3 separate regions of the Homo sapiens genome follow, and regions 2 and 3 are each linked to region 1. Evidence: fine-mapped expression QTL. A gene starts in region 1. Each other region holds a variant in brackets. All regions are shown on one strand. Distances are between the middles of the regions.

Region 1 (2,840 bases):
GCAGAAAATGTTCAAGACAAAACCCTGCTTATTTACTCAGGCTTTAAAACCATAAAACTCCCAAATTCTCCCTGTAGCTATTTATATCCAGAGCTAGTCCCCAAATTAAGCTCAGGTTTGAAGTAACTTAAAAGAAAAATAGCCTTCCCTGCTTTAAAAAGATTTTCCGTATAGACCTCCACTGGTCTAATTACGAAGGGCGCGTAGTTTCAGGGTTGGCTGGGGGTAGGGCACCGGGACCTCCAAGGCAGTTACACTCCTCAGCCTCCTAACAGCTGTACGGCTGCCCGGTGGTCCCTCTCCAAGGCAGCGGCTCTCAGGCTAGCCTCAGCCTACCCCACCCGCCCGCACCCCGTGTTCTCCCTCGTGGGGGTGCCGGGGGGAGTAGGGAGGCGGGGCGGGCGGCAGGTCCGGAAAAGTGGCTGCCCTCGCCCCGAAAGAAGTTGACCCTCCTCCCGTGCCGAGAGCTTGGGATGAAAATAGCTTCTTCCTCTTTACCCTTCCTGGACCCCCGCCCCAGGACGACTGGGCCCCTTCATTCATCTTTCAGCGGCCACCCAGGCGGCTTGGGCGTCCCCACGCCGGGACTCTGTGCCCCGGGGACCCACGGGGACCCTCCCTTGGGCCTCTGAAGCCGCGGCGCACCCCGCACCCAAGCCACCCCGGGGGCCCCGGCCTCCCCCACCCAATTAGCGGGCAGCACCGCAGACCCGAGTCCCCACGCAGCTCGCGCCAGGGGAGGCGGCCGCCTGGGAAGCCCGTCCCCCGCGCCGCGGCCCCCGCCCCCGCCAGCCCCGCGTCCCCTGGGAAAGGCGGGGGCGCAGCGAGTTTCCCCCAATTAGTTTCCTCTTTGTATGGAGTCTTAGCGCGCCCGTACTCCTCCGCGCAGCGGAAAGTAGTCCCGGCCGGGCGCTCCGCGGCTTCCCAGCGCCAGACACATTTTACTTTGAGAAGTCGACGGGACTCTCAGCGGGGTCCTTCAGATGGGGGGCCAGAGGCTGCGGGAGGCGTGCGCGGGCAGCAAGGGCAGGGGCCGCGGCCAAGGGTAGGGGGCGGGGAGGGCCGCGAACTCCTCGCCGCTGCCTGGAGAGATGGATCATGGGGCGTAGGGAGATGGCAAACCTCAAACCACGTACGGCGGGCGATACGCGTCAACCGAACCTCGCCAACGGAAGCCCGGAGCCGCCCCTCCCCGCTCCCCCGCCCCGCCGCCCCGGACGGACGGGCGCGCGGAGCCAACCCCGCTGCCGCTGGCTGTCCAAATCCCACCAGAGCCAATGGGAGCGCGAGGGGGGGCGGAGCCATCTCGCGTCAGTTGGGCTGCGCGCCCCCCTCCCCCGGCGCCCCTGCAGGCCCCGCCCCTGCCTCCTCCCCTCTCCGCTCGCTGCTCCCGGAGTAGTTGGTGCCAGTGAAGTGAGGGCGGCGATGAGAGCGAAAGTTGCGCTCGGCTCGTCGCTGGGGGCTTGAAGCGGCTCCGCGCTCTGCCCGTTTGGGCCTCCCCCGACTCGGACTCGCGCCCGTGGGCTCCCGCCGCGCCCGCCCGGCCCCGCGCCGGCCCCGCGCCCCCTCCCCCGTCTCGGCGCCCCCTCCTCAGGAGCCGCGGGTCCCCGCCACTTTCGCACGGCCCCGGCCCCCGCCGATGCCGGCCATGGTGGAGAAGGGCCCCGAGGTCTCAGGGAAGCGGAGAGGGAGGAACAACGCGGCCGCCTCCGCCTCCGCCGCCGCCGCCTCCGCCGCCGCCTCGGCCGCCTGCGCCTCGCCAGCCGCCACTGCCGCCTCGGGCGCCGCCGCCTCCTCAGCCTCGGCCGCCGCCGCCTCAGCCGCCGCCGCCCCCAATAATGGCCAGAATAAAAGTTTGGCGGCGGCGGCGCCCAATGGCAACAGCAGCAGCAACTCCTGGGAGGAAGGCAGCTCGGGCTCGTCCAGCGACGAGGAGCACGGTAGGTGGCAGCCGCCCCCGCGGCCCCGGGCCCCGCGCCCCGCGCCGCGCTGACCGCCGTATTCTGCTTCCCCCGCAGGTGGCGGTGGCATGAGGGTCGGACCCCAGTACCAGGCGGTGGTGCCCGACTTCGACCCCGGTGAGTAGCGGCCCCGGCCGGCCGGCGGCGGGGATGAGCGGGAGCCCCGGGTCCCCGGCGAGCCCGAGGGGGCGGGAGCCCGCCGACAACTTTCTTTTTGTGCGTTCGCCCTGCCGTCCGTGGGGAGAACAGCAGGGCGAGGACGAGGAGGCGCACACGCACACGAGTGTTCTGCAAACGTGCCTCTGCACCCGGGGGAGGCCAGGTCGCCCCCAGCAGGGCCGGCGCCGCTGCCCCCTTGCGCCTCCGAGGACTGCGGGTGGCGTCGGAGGTGGCCACACCTGGCCTGGGGGCGCTGGGGGTCCCTGCGTCCAGGTGAGCTGCGCCTCGGCCAGGGGTAAGGGTGGCAGTGCCGGAGAGTTAGTGTCCTGCGAGCGCCCCGGACTTAGGAGGTCCCCAGAGACCCCTTTCTCGGAACCCTTCCCAAAGGCTGCTCCCCACGCCTTTGCTCCTCCTCTCAGCCTCTGGGCTCTTGCTGGCTCCTGACTGCCCTCCCATCCAGAAGGCGAGTAGAAGAACGACCCCCCAAAACCAGTCAATAAAAGAAGTGTGTTTTCCAGAGGGCGCCTGCCTGGGGAAGAGAGTCTCGCGTGTGGCAGTTGGATTTTAGGACCTATTTGTAAATGTGTGTATTTCCTTTTTTTTGGAGGAAGAGATTGTGAAATTGAGAAGCATCAGAAGCTTTAGCCTAACAAATGCTTTTCACCTACAAGAAAGCCCTACACCCTAGAATGGAACACTTAGTTCCCTGGCTGCTATTCT
Region 2 (2,500 bases), 38 kb after region 1:
TCATCTAACACACTTCCTTATTTATCTTGTTTATTGTATGATTCCTTCAACTAGACGGTAAACTGTGAGGTGAGAGGAGAGCTTTTTAAAATCTTGTTGCCTTAACAGCCTCCCCCCCCCCCACCACTGCTTCTAGAATAGTGCCTGGTGCAAATTTGCCTCTCAGTAACAAGTTTTCTGTTTATTTAAAAATACGGACGGAATTTCGAAGCTTTGTGATAGAGATAAAAAAAATGGACAGGAGCTTTTCCCAGGAGGTATACAAAGTATAGGTGTCTGGCCTGGAACTCTCCACAAAGAATACCTTTATTGCTCTACAAATGCTATTTGTAGTCTAAACATGGATGAGCTGATACAATTCTGAAGGCACCTTGCAGCCTTCTCTCCTTGCTTCTAGCTCCACGTGTGTGCGAGTCTGCATATGTGAGTGTAAGGGCAGCACTGTGTTAAAGAGATTTACAAACATCTTTTTAATCCTCATAACAATCCTACACCACACATGTCATCATCCCCTTTGTACAGACCATAAAACTGATATTTAGAGAGCTTAAACGTCTTGCTTGAGGCCTCAAGTGGTAAGTGGCAGAACTCAGCTTGAAGTGACTTGACTATTATTACATTATATGTGACCTCCTAGATAAAGAGATGCCTCCTTATTTTGTGTAAGGCAGAAGTGGGGAGTCTTGGGCAGATTACTTAACCACTGCTATAGTTTGGATGTGGTTTGTCCTTAGCAAACCTCATGTTGAAATTTGATCTCCAGTGTTGGAGGTGGGCCCTAATGGAAGGTGTTTGTGCCATGGGGCTGGAACCCTCATAAATAGATTAATGCCCTCCTGGGTGAGGGGTGAGTGAGTTCTTACTCCTTTAGTTCCTACAAGAGCTGGTTGTTAAAAAGAGCTGGCGCCTCTCTCTTGCTGCTTCTCTGGCCATGTGACCTCTTCACATGCTGGCTCCCCTTCACCTTCCGCCATGTGTGGAAGCAGCCTGAGGCTTTCACCAGATGCCCCATCTTCCAGCCGGCGGAATCATGAGCCAAGTGAATTTCTTTTCTTTGTCAGTTACCCAGTGTCATGTATTCCTTTATAGGAACACTAAAGGGACTAAGACAACCCCTTTAGGTCCTAATCATATACATACTTATAGATTCAAAGTATCTGCTTAGCATGTACTCCATTCAAAGCAACTGTTCAAAGGTAAGAATCCTATCAGGGATCAGTGCAGAAATACGACACCTTACACATTTCTCAGCTTTCACCTTCCCAGAGCTTCCTCGGATTGGTCCTCCTGTTAGTTTCCTGGATCTGAAGGTAATAC[C/A]TCATCCAGAAGATAAGAAGGGTAGTGGGGACTGTCACCACGAAGGAGCTTTCCTTTTCTGGTTCAAGTTATTTCCCAGCTCCACTCACCTCCGGACTGTTTCATGAAGAATTCCAGAAGTCCCCTTCTCCCTCATAGGAAAGTGCACCGAACCACTCAGATTTAATGGCTTAAAACAACTGCTGGTATTTGAGGATTTGTTCAGGTGGGCAGTTGTGGTTCTGGGCTAATGGGGGCCGGTGTCATCTGCTTGCTCCACTGTGATCTGGAACAGCTGGGCCTTTTTTCTTGGTTACTGTGTAGTCTCACGACCTCTCCTTTTCCAGTGAGGTCTGCAGTAGGACCTGATGGCTTATGCAGTGGTTCAGGGCAAACATTCCCAGAGGAAGGAAACAGAAACTGCCAGTTCTTTTTGAAGTGTAGGCCCAGAACTGGTATATCATCACTTCTGTCACATTTCCCCGATGACTTTGTGTCTCTGACCATCCCAAACTCACTGTGAGAAGTGACTGCATGGGGTGTGGGAGTAGGTCCATTGGGAGTGGACTAGTCCAGACCTTTTTTTTTTTTTTGAGACGGAGTCTTGCTGTGTCGCCTGGGCTGGAGTGCAGTGGCGCAATCTCGGCTCACGGCAAGCCTCGCCTCCCAGGTTCACGCCGTTCTCCTGCCTCAGCCTCCCGAGTAGCTGGGACTACAGGCACCCGCCACCATGCCCAGCTAATTTTTTTTTTTTTTAAGTAGAGACGGGGTTTCACCGTGTTAGCCAGGATGGTCTCGATCTCCTGACCTCATGATCCGCCTGCCTTGGCCTCCCAAAGTGCTGGGATTACAGGTGTGAGCCATCACGCCCGGCCCAGTCCAGACTATTTTTGAGAATAAAAAGGGGCCTATTAAAAATTATGTCAGGTTGACAGACATAAACTGGAACTGTCCTCACCTAGTCTGGACATGTGGGTATCATTATCATCTCTACAACTTGGAGAAAACAACACATAGGTGTGACCTTGAATCTTGAATCTGTTTTCCTGCAGTTCTCCTAATGTGAAAATGTGACTGCATTGAGTATGCATGTGATGTTTTAAATTGAATATAGCTTCTAAGCAGAACCCATCAACTCTTCTTTTCTGTTCTGTTCTTTACTTTTCTTTCTTTTTTTTCTTTTCTTTTTTTGAGACAGGGTCTC
Region 3 (2,840 bases), 63 kb before region 1:
TCCCACGCCTGCCCTGTGGGATGGGGAGGGCTTGGGGAAGGTGCTGCTATGCCCTGAGTCCCCGGAGCCAAAGACTCCCGAGGGTGACAAGCAGCCCTGCCCGACCTCAGGCCCAGGGGTGATGGCTGTTGGTGGCTCCCAGGCTGAGTCACTGTAGCCTTCCCGTCACTCTCTCTGACACCCAGAGACTGGGTCCTGCCATCCTGGGGTAAGGCAGGGGGCAGGAAGGTGCTTTCGAGAATGTAGCCCTGGCCGGGCACAGTGGCTCACGCCTGTAATCCCAGCACTTTGGGAGGCAGAGGTGGGCAGATCACCTGAGGTCAGGAGTTTGAGACCAACCTGGCCAACATGGTGAAACCACTAAAAATACAACATATACTAAATTACTAAATAAAAAAAATACTAAATACAAAAAGTACTAAAAATACAAAAAAGTAGCTGAGCGTGGTGGTGCACACCTGTAATCCCAGCTGCTTCAGAGGCTCAGGCAGGAGAATCGCTTGAACCTGGGAGGTAGAGGATGCAGTGAGCTGAAATCGTGCCACTGTACTCCAGTCTGGGAGACAGAGCGAGACTCTGTCTCATAAATAAATAAATAATAAATAAATAAATAAATACGTAGCTGTGCCAGAGGCTTAGGGAACTGGGAGTGTCTTAGGGAACTGGGGACCTAGGAGGGGAGGCCACGTGGGTAGGGCTCCCACCCCACTCACTTCAACTGGACATTCTCAGTTCAGGAAGTGATTTTGTTATTGTTGTTGTTGAGCTTCTGAGTAAAATTTCCTGTGAAAAGGGGTTTAGCAGGCGGGCGCAGTGGCTCAAGCCTGTAATCCTACCACTTTGAGAGGTCAAGGCAGGAGGATCGCTTGAACCCAGGAGTTCAAGACCAGTCAGGGCAGCATGGTGAAACCTTCTCTACAAAAAAAAAAAAAAAAAAAAAAAAAAAAAAAAAATTAGCTGGGGGTTGTGGCGTGCACCTGTAGTCTCAGCTACTCGGGAGGCTGAGGTGGGAGGATCACTTGAGCCCACGAGGTTGAGGCTGCAGTGAATGGCAATCACACCATTGGACTACAACCTGGGTGAGAGAGTGAGACACTGTCTCAAAAAAACAAAAATTAAAAAAAGAAAGAAAAAGGAGTTAACTACTAAAAATCATTTCTGGGCCAGGTGCAATGGCAGAGTCCCAGCTACTCTGGAGGCTGAGGTGGGAGGATCATTTGAGTTCTGTAGGTGAAGTCTGCAGTGAGCTGTGAGCA[C/T]GCCACTGCACTCCAGCCTGGACAACGGAGCAACACCCTGTCTGAAAAAAATATAATAAATTAAAAATAAAGCCTGGGTGCAGTGGATCATGCCTGTAATCCCAGCACTTTGGGAGGCCTAGGTGGTCGGATCACCTGAAGTCAGGAGTTCGAGACCAGCCTGACCAACATGGAGAAACCCGGTCTCTACTAAAAATACAAAATTAGCCAGGCGTGGTGGCATATGCCTGTAATTCCAGCTACTCAGGAAGCTGAAGCAGGAGAATCACTTGAAGCTGGGAGGCAGAGGCTGTGGTGAGCCAAGATCGTGCCACTGCACTCTAGCCTGGGCAAGAAAAGCGAAACTCCATCTCAAAAATAAAATAAAATTAAAAAATAGCCGGGCGCTGTGGCTCACACCTGTAATCCCAGCACCTTGGGAGGCCAAGGCAGGCAGATCACAAGGTCAAGAGTTCGAGACCAGCCTGACCAACATGGTGAAACCTCATCTCTACTAAAAATACGAAAATTAGTCGGGCGTGATTGCACGCCCCTATAGTCCCAGCTACTCAGGAGGCTGAGGCAGGAGAATCGCTTGAACCCGGGAGGCGGAGATTGCAGTGAGTCAAGATGGCGCCACTACACTCCAGTCTGGGTGACAGAGCGAAACTGATCCCAAAAAATAAATAAATAGAATAATGAAGATAGAAATCATTTGGGGTCCCTGCACCCTACATAAAATGTCAAATCATAAACCCCAGGGCCTACTCTGAACCAAGACCTCTCTGTTCCTCACTGTACCTCCTCAGAGAAGAAACTCTGGAAGAGCAAGAAAAGTGTTAGACTCAGAGTCAAGCGGACCCAGTAGAAAACCCCAGAAAAGGACAGCTCAGACTCAATGGAAGCTTATTTTTCTCTCATTGTGAAGATGTCGGCCGGGCGCGGTGGCTCACACCTGTAATCTCAGTACTTTGGGAGGCCAAGGGGAGTGAATCGCTTGAGGTCAGGAGTTCGAGACCAGCCTGGCCAACATGGTGAAACCCCGTCTCTACTAAAAATACAAAAAAATTAGCTGGGCGTGGTGGCAGGCGCCTGTAATCCCAGCTACTTGGGAGGCTGAGGCAGGAGAATCACTTGAACCCGGGAGGTGGAGGTTGCAGTGAGCTGAATTGTGCCACTGCACTCCAGCCTGGGCAACAGAGCAAAATGCTGTCTCAAAAACAAAAACAAAAACAAAATCTGTTTAGAGGGGCCCAGGGCTTATATGGCAAGGAGTGTCACAGTGTCAGGAACCTGGGCTGCCTTTATTCCTTTCATCCTGTGGCTCTGCCGTACCTGGTTTTATTTTTTTTCTTTTTGTTTGCTGTTGTTTTTTGAGATGGAGTTTTGCCCTGTAGCCCAGGCTGGAGTGCAATGGCGCAATCTTGGCTCACTGCAACCTCCGCCTCCTGGGTTCAAGTGATTTTCCTGCCTCAGCCTCCAGAGTAGCTGGGACTATAGGCTCACGCCACCACGCCTGGCTGATTTTTTGTACTTTTAGTAGAGACGGGGTTTCACCATGTTGGCCAGGCTGGTCTCCAACTCCTGACCTCAGGTGATCCACCT

The links. PIP is the estimated chance that this variant, and not a neighbour inherited with it, causes the effect. A credible set is the group of variants that fine-mapping cannot tell apart.
Region 2: its variant is the best candidate, but not a certain one, in a credible set for the expression of RCOR1 in whole blood (INTERVAL, PIP 0.79).
Region 3: its variant is the best candidate, but not a certain one, in a credible set for the expression of RCOR1 in T cells (TOPMed, PIP 0.67).

Annotation. Positions count from the first base shown.
Region 1 is chr14:102,591,248-102,594,087 of GRCh38, forward strand. RCOR1 (REST corepressor 1) reads left to right here and starts at 1,402. Exons shown (of 12, transcript NM_015156.4): 1 at 1,402-1,940; 2 at 2,019-2,078. The coding sequence starts at 1,640. RefSeq lists an enhancer at 5-820 and silencers at 399-1,708, 1,769-2,378.
Region 2 is chr14:102,629,332-102,631,831 of GRCh38, forward strand. The region is part of intron 2 of RCOR1 (REST corepressor 1); the gene reads left to right. Among named protein-coding and RNA genes, the nearest start is that of RCOR1, 38 kb to the left of the region's middle. The variant C/A (reference allele first, on the strand shown) is at 1,318.
Region 3 is chr14:102,527,943-102,530,782 of GRCh38, forward strand. The region is part of intron 2 of LOC105370680 (a long non-coding RNA gene); the gene reads left to right. Among named protein-coding and RNA genes, the nearest start is that of MIR4309, 10 kb to the right of the region's middle. RefSeq lists an enhancer at 796-1,297. The variant C/T (reference allele first, on the strand shown) is at 1,257.